2 separate regions of the Homo sapiens genome follow, and region 2 is linked to region 1. The links come from fine-mapping of genetic effects on gene expression. Tissue or cell type: lung. Region 1 holds a variant in brackets; the other region holds the start of a gene. All regions are shown on one strand. Distances are from middle to middle.

The links. PIP is the estimated chance that this variant, and not a neighbour inherited with it, causes the effect.
Region 2: it holds the start of IMPA1, and the variant in region 1 is the best candidate, but not a certain one, in a credible set for the expression of IMPA1 in lung (TOPMed, PIP 0.56).

What each region holds. Positions count from the first base shown.
Region 1 is chr8:81,605,935-81,610,187 of GRCh38, reverse strand. It overlaps the pseudogene IMPA1P1. Among named protein-coding and RNA genes, the nearest start is that of FABP12, 74 kb to the right of the region's middle. The variant T/C (reference allele first, on the strand shown) is at 2,652.
Region 2 is chr8:81,684,707-81,688,959 of GRCh38, reverse strand. It overlaps IMPA1 (inositol monophosphatase 1), which reads left to right and starts at 2,635. Exons shown (of 9, transcript NM_005536.4): 1 at 2,635-2,708. RefSeq lists an enhancer at 2,389-2,889.

The DNA of each region.
Region 1 (4,253 bases):
CTTCTCTTAGGAGTCGGGACCTTAAAAATATAGTTTGGCCATGTACAAACTAATTTTATACTATACATCTTTGTTCTATATAGTAATGAGTAAAGCAAAAGAGAGAGAGCCTCTGTCAAATAGCTACAGAACCTCCCAGAATGATGTCCTTGAGGGAAGGGCAATAAACTTATTGCTACAGTGTGCTGTCTTGAAGCAAGGACTGTAACCATGGGCTATAAAATGGTTATGTTAGTCATAAAAGAGCTGCAAGAGGTTTACAATTTTAACCTTTAATTTTGCTGTTGGATAAAGTAAAAACTAATTTTTACTTCAGGATTTTTTCAGAAGTGTAACCAGGGAAATATTACCAAGGAGAAGTTCTGACATTGATTTAAGATCTTTTGCATTCAGCTGCTTCTTTAGTTTAGCAATGTGATTTCAGAGTTACTTATACAAAACAATGAAACTAAAGGGAGTCATAATCTGAATGAATGCTTTAAACAAGCAGAAACAGTCTAATAGGTTCCTGACTAGGAACAAATATTTTTAAGACAACAATTATTGTGGCTCAATTTCCTTTAATTTTTCAAAATTTAATTAGATGAAATGTACCTGGTATATATTTTCTGGCATCATCTTTTGAGAATAATTTTGTCATAAACATAGCTACTTTTTATTATGTATCTTTTATATGGCAGGCACTCTTTTGGTGCTTTACAAATATTATTTGTAGTTATTGTAACAGTGATCTAAGGCAAATTGGTATCCCTATTTGATGACAAGAAAGCTAAAACTCAAAGAAGAAACTTGGTCCAGATTTGTTTTTTTGTTTTTTGTGATGGAGTTTCACTCTTGTTGCTCAGGCTGGAGTGCAGTGGTGTGATCTCGGCTCACTGCAACCTCCACCTCCTGGGTTCAAGCAATTCTCCTGCCTCAGCCTCCCAAGTAGCTGGGATTACAGGCATGTGCCACCACACTAGGCTAATTTTGTATTTTTAGTAGAGACAGGGTTTCACCATGTTGGCCAGGCTGATCTCAAACACCTGACCTCAGGTGATCCACTCTCCTTGGCCTCCCAAAGTGCTGGGATTACAGGCATAAGCCACCATGCCTGGCCCAGATTAGGGTTTTTAAGCAGCTGAGCATGGAACAAACTCAACTCTTTGTGACCCCAAACATAGGCTTTTTTATGATATACCCTATTAGCTGTATAGGAGGATCAGATTAAGATAGGATTCAGAAGGCACATTGTAGAATCTATACCATAGCCTTAATTACCTGGTAATATAAGTAATCTCTTTGGTAATATTTGCTCACAAAATATATGCTCTAGCTGACTACAAGACTCCTTGCCTGAGATCCCATGATGTGCATTAGAAGTGATGGAAGCACCACTAGTTGCTATCACTGTTGTTCTGCTAGCCTAGGATTCTCTGAATAGAATACTAAGGGATTACTTGTAGAAGATCTTGGTCTTTGCTTTCTATAATATGAGATATCAGCTATCACATATCTCATATGAAAAGGGGAGAAACACATCTTTCTTTATAACTGAAAAAATGCCACAAAAGCTAATTTGATTTCATGCATTTGGGAAACAAACATCTTGGAAATTTATTGCACCTCCTAGTTCTTTCTTAAATTAGATGTGCAGCAAAAACATAGGCAGGAAAAAATTCCAAATCAAAGACATTATATCATTCTAATCCTTTTTTTAAAAAGTCCCTTTGAGATGAAGGATGTACTTAGGTGCAATATTTTTTACAATACAATACAAAATAAATACCACATTTGTAATCAATTTATCATTACTTTTTAAAAAAATAAACTGGGAAAGATCTTGGTAAATAGAACCCACTGCTTTATTTCCAGAGCTTTAAACAGTCACAAAAGGAGTTTGAATAGAAACCATTTGCAATTAACTTGCAGACATAATGATCTTTTTCTTCTAAAAACACATTTCAGTGTGTATTTCTTTAATAAAAAGGAACATTGTCTAACACAGCCACAGCACAATTATAAAAGTCAGGAAATTAACATTGATACATAATCTAATATAAAGACTTTATTCAAATTTTGAAAAAAATTTTAACCCAATGTCCAATCCAGACTCATACATTGATTGCATTTAGTTCTCATTTCTCTTCAGTTTCCTTTAATTTATAACTTGCTTGGTCTTTCTTTATCTTTTATGACCTTGACATTTTTCAAAAGTATAGGCCAATTATTTCGTGGTCTATCTCTTGATTTGAATTTGTCTAGTTTATTTATGATTACATTTGGATTATGAATTTTTGGCAGGAATGTCACAGAAGTAATGTTCTGTACTTCTCAGTGCATCATATCAGGAGGCACATGGTATCTTTTTGTCCTATTATGGGTGATATTAACTTTGATTACTTGGTAATGGTAGATAGATCATTGTAAAAATGCTATTTTTTCCTCACTGTACTTATTATATATCTTGTGGAGAGATACTTTGATACCAAAAATATCAAACTTTTACCCATTAATTTTAACATTTATTGATGATTTTTTTTTTTGAGATGGAGTCTTGCTCTGTTGCCCAGGCTGGAGTGTAGTGGCTCGATCTTGGCTCACTGCAAGCTCTGCCTCCCAGGTTCACGCCATTCTTCTGCCTCAGCCTCCTGAGTAGCTGGGACTACAGG[T/C]GCCCGCAACAACGCCTGGCTAATTCTTTTTAATATATATTTTTAGTAGAGATGGGGTTTCACCGTGTTAGCCAGGATGGTCTCGGTCTCCTGACCTTGTGATCTGCCCACCTTGGCCTCCCAAAGTGCTGGGATTACAGGTGTGAGCCACCACGCCCGGCTGATGATTCTTTACTGAATAAGTTATTACTATAATTGCTATCAAGTAGTATCTTACTTATTCTTACTTATATCTTACACATTCATCTTACCTTGCTGTATTTTCAAGGAAGAGGTGCTATGAGAGGAAAAACCTGTAGTAATCTTTCAAGAGAGGCCTAGGTTTGTGCAGAACCCAGGTGGGTTGCAATCCCTTTAGGTCTAGATATGATGCACATCCAGTTGGGAATGATCAATATCATGATACTTTATGCTCCCTAGAGATTATTGTGCATTGTGTATGTGTGCATGTGTGTGTGTATCTGTGTAAAATAAGCTGTGGTTGCCTTGGGTTTAAAAAAATATGAATATATTTGCATGCTGTTATAGTAGAATTATAGCATTATTTTTAGGGCTTTTTTTCTGCAAAATTATTGCTTTCATGTTTATCTTATTAAATTATTGCTTTGTGAGGATTAGTTTTGGGATTTATATAGTATATCACGATAACTGGATTTTATATATTTTTATTTTAAGATTAAATACCATCTTTTTTTACATTTATTCTCTAGATTGGTTCAACTTATCTCAATCAACATTCAAACTGAAGTTAGGAGGAATACCTTACTTGAAAGGTTATTTTTTCAATCTGCCATTTTTGAATACTATTTTTGAGGATCCAGAGTGTTGGAACAGCAGCTACTAATATGTGCATTGCGGCAAGTGGAGGAGCAGAGGCATTTTATGAAATGGGAATTCACTGCTGGGATATTGCAGTAGCTGCCATTATTGTTACTGAAGCTGGTGGCGTGCTAATGGATGTTACTGGTAAAATTATGAGATAGTGAATCATTTTTCCCTTTACATCTCTTGGACTTTCCTCTGTATATGGAGTTTAAAAAAAGTTTGATACATATGATAGCTTGGATTTTAAGACAAACAGGCTATATAATTTTGTGCAAAATCAAAATAAACATTAGGAGATAGAGGCAAGGATGAGAACTAATGGCAATATGGGACTGATAGTGATAAATGGCTAAGCCTTTTCAAATGTGAGTAATAGGAACTCCTGAAAGGCTGTTGAGAAAGCCTAGAGAGTCACTGACTCTGAGGCTTGTATTTAGAGTTCTTTGAATGCTGACCATTGTGATAGTTGATGATTGACTTCAGTCCTCCACCATCACCTTCTGTGTTGGGACTAGAGAAGTTAAATATTTGCTTTGAGCTGATGGTGAAATTTTTGAAGTGAAGAGTGAACCTGGGTTCAAAGAATTCACCAGTGATCTGAGAGAAAGGCAACAAAGAAATAAGGAAATGGGAAGGATAGTGGTATGAAAATTAATTGGAGTCACATTTTCTGTCCATAGATTCTTAAACAGTAAAGAGGTAATAACAGTGTATATACACACACACACACACAAACAAAGAAATAGAGAATAGATGACATTTTCAGACTAGCATGAC
Region 2 (4,253 bases), 79 kb before region 1:
TAAGGCATCACTCTTTTTGGATTAAAGATGTTTATTGGTCCTTGTGAGGTGTGAGAATTGAGTCCAGTCCAAATTACTCATCTCTAAGACATTTCATTTGAAATATATTGGTGACATTTTGTCTTTTGATTAAACAAACAGAAACAGTAACTTCCTAAGCAAAGAGCCAAATAACTAACTTACTTTCCTGGTCCAGTTGTAGCTAGGACATCTTATATCTGTGCAATGCTTTTTGCACTATGATGGTGTATGTACCACGATGTCGCTCTTTCTTTCTTTCTTTCTTTCTTTCTTTTTTGAGATGGAGTTTCACTTTTGTTACCCAGGCTGGAGTGCAATGGCGCTATCTCGGCTCACTTCAACCTCCACCTCCGGGGTTCAAACGATTCTCCTGCCTCAGCCTCCCTCGTAGCTGGGATTACAGGCACCCACCACCATGCCTGGCTAATTTTTGTATTTTTAGTAGAGACAGAGTTTCACCATGTTGACCAGGCTGGTCTTGAACTTCTGACCTCAGGTGATCTGCCTGCCTTGGCCTCCCAAAGTGATGGGATTACAGGCATGAGCCACTGCACCTGGCCAACTCTTTCAAGAAGAAGAAACATTTTAAGACCATAACTAGTCCTTGTACCTCATATAATGTGATCTCATTGTGCCATATATTCTCAGTGTGTAAACTTTTGTAGGGCCAAAGAAAAAACTTCCCTTTTGTCCTCTGAAGGTTTGGTGAAAATCAACTGACAAAAGGCAGATAAATAGAAGAAAAGGATTTTATTTGATCATAGTTTTATGTGACTTGGGAGCCTTCAGAATGAAGACCCAAAGGTATAAGGGGACAGTCCATTTTATGCTTAGTTTCAACAGCATATGGACAGCTGTGTAGAATATGGTTGGACAAAGAGGGTATAACCTAATGCTATTAGACTGGGGAAATCCAGTAAGACCTGTCTGCTTAGATTCTTCTTGGCCTCTCTCCATAGGACCCTCTTTGGAATGGGGGTCTTATGACCTAAACTCAGACAGGGTGAGTCATATAATTTCTTCGTGGTCAGATTTTACATAGAAACACAGGGAGAATGCTAGAGTAATATCTATCTATCTATCTATCTATCTATCTATCTATCTATCTATCTATCTATCTATATCTCTCTCTCTATATATATATATTTTTTTTTTGAGACGGAGGCTCCCTCTGTCGCCCAGGCTGGAGTGCAGTGGCGCGATCTCCACTCACTGGAAGCTCCACCTCCCAGGTTCATGCCATTCTCCTGCCTCAGCCTCCCGAGTAGCTGGGACTGCAGGTGCCAGCCACCACACCCGGCTAATTTTTTTGTGTTTTTAATAGAAACGGGGCTTCACCGTGTTAGCCAGGACGGTCTCGATCTCCTGACCTCGTGATCCGCCTGCCTTGGCCTCCCAAAGTGGTGGGATTACAGGCGTGAGCCACCTTGCCTGGCCTAGAGTAGTATTTTTATGTTTTATGGCTGGCTTTATAAAAAAGGGGTCCTGATTTCTGGGACCTGATTTGGGAAAGAGGAATTCTAGCTTCTATGACTAGTCTGGGGAAGAATGTGGGACCAGAGACAGGAGACCAAAAGGAGTCAGAGGAAAATTTTTCCTTCTAAGGCTGCTTCTGAGGCCTTCATTGTGGGGTATCATTTTCTGAACCCCAAAACTTTGAACTCAGTGTGTTTCACTCTCTGCTCTTGCTGTGTGACCTGAGGACAAATCACTTAACTACTCTGAGCCTCAGTTTCCTCATCTGTCTGACAAAGCTAATCATACCTTTTTCAAGAAACTGTTAAAACTTTAAGGAAAATAATGCATATAAAAACACATTTCGGCCAGGCGTGGTGGCTCATGCCTGTAATCTTTGGGAGGCCGAGGTAGGCGGATCACTTGAGTCCAGGAGTTTGAGACCAGCCTGAGCAACATGGTGAAACCCCGTCTCTACAAGATACAAAAATTAGCCGGGCGTTGTGGCAGGCGTCTGTAATCCCAGCTACTCAGGAGGCTGAGGCATGAGAATCGCTTGAATCCAAGAGGCGGACGTTGCAGTGAGCCGAGATCGCGCCATTGCACTTCAGCCCGGGCGACAAAAGTGAAATTCCGTCTCAAAAAAACAAAACAATAAAACCCCACACAATTGCTTGAAGCATAGTAAGTCCTCAATAAATAGTATGTAAGTAAATTATCAAGAATTGGGCAGTTGGTTCTGGTTATCAGTTTATTTTTTTTTAATCTAGTATAGGTTTACCAGCTTTAGGTTAGCACCTAAAAGCTGCATAATCGGAATCATATCTGCAATCTGGGTTTTGTCAAAATAGTACTATAGAATAAATGGGAGAAAGAAGAAAGCAAGCTAAATGGGAAACCGTGAATGAATGGAGGACGAAAGAAGAAAAAGGCAAAGTAAAGAGAGAAGTAATGTTTAAAAACTGAGAGATGAAAAGACAAGCAGGAGAAAAGAACCAGAAGCTAGAATGAAGAGGCAGTATCCCATGCTCCAGCGCGGGTCAGGACCCGGCCCGGCCTGGCAGAGGCTCGCAGGGCGCAGCTCGGGGCGGGGCCCAGCAAAGCAACCACGCCCCCTCAGGAATGGAGTTTTTAAGGGCGGAACTTCCTGTTGCGAGTAGCCCCTCTACCTCCGGAAGAGACGAGTGCGGTAACACCGTTCACAGAGCTAGCCGGACGTCCTCCGACTCAAGGTGAGACCGTTATTTTCCTCACCGCACCCTCCGGGTTCAGCGGGCGCTGTGGGTTTCCAGGGAGGCCCCTTCCCTCCTCAGGAGCGGGCGCGAGCGCCGTGCGCGGTCGGCGCCTAGGGTGGAGGCAGCCTCTGGGTGACCCCTGCCTGCTGCGTTATCCGGAGCTGCCCTGGGCGACCGGGAACAGTTCCGGCATTGGAGTAGCGGTTCGCTCACGCGACCTCACTTAACCTCTGTGGCGGCTTCTGTGGAATAATTGCCCCTTTTTATGTCCCCAACTCCGAAAAGCTCCTAGAAACTTGGTGCATCCCCAGGCCCAGGTAGTCACTCTAAGTGATGGGGCAGCGCCCAGGTCCTGTGCTGCCCGCAGTCGCGGTGCTGGGACAGGTGGCAAAAAGGAAGGTGGCCTGGCTCCTACGCTGGAAGGCTGTGACCAGGACAGAAACAGCAGGAAACAGTTCAGGTGTTTATGGCTTTGGGAAAATGAAAGTGAGTAAACTACGGACCCTGCCCATCAATAAATGTACTGTGATTTATATATATATAACTATTCATATATTATATATAACTATATATAAAAATATATATAAAATGTACTTATATACTTTATATATAGTACATAAATATACTTATGTATAGTATATATACTTATATATAGTACATAAATATACTTCTGTATACTTATATATAGTACATAAATATACTTACGTATATATACTTATATATAGTACAGAAATATACTTACGTATATATACTTATATATAGTACAGAAATATACTTAGGTATATATACTTATATATAGTACAGAAATATACTTAGGTATACATACTTATATATAGTACCTAAATATACTTAGGTATATATACTTATATATAGTACATAAATATACTTACATATATACTTACATATAGTATATAAATATACTATATGTATAGTACATAAATATACTATGTATAGTATATATACTATATATACTATATATAGTATCTATACTTATGTATAGTATATATAGTATCTAAATATACTTATGTATAGTATATATAGTATCTAAATATACTTATGTATAGTATATATAGTATCTAAATATACTTATGTATAGTATATATACTATATATAGTATCTAAATATACTTAATGTATACTATATATAGTATCTAAATATACTTATTTATAGTATATATATCTAAATATACTTATGTATAGTATATATACTATATATAGTATCTAAATATACTTACGTATAGTATATATAGTATCTAAATATACTTATGTATAGTATATATACTATACATAGTATCTAAATATACTTATGTATAGTATATATACTATACATAGTATCTAAATATACTTATGTATAGTATATATACTATACATAGTATCTAAATATACTTATGTATAGTATATATACTACACATAGATACTATGTATAGTATATATACTCCACATAGTATCTAAATATACTTATGTGTAGTATATATACTCCACATAGTATCTAAATATACTTATGTGTAGTATATATACTCCACATAGTATCTAAATATACTTA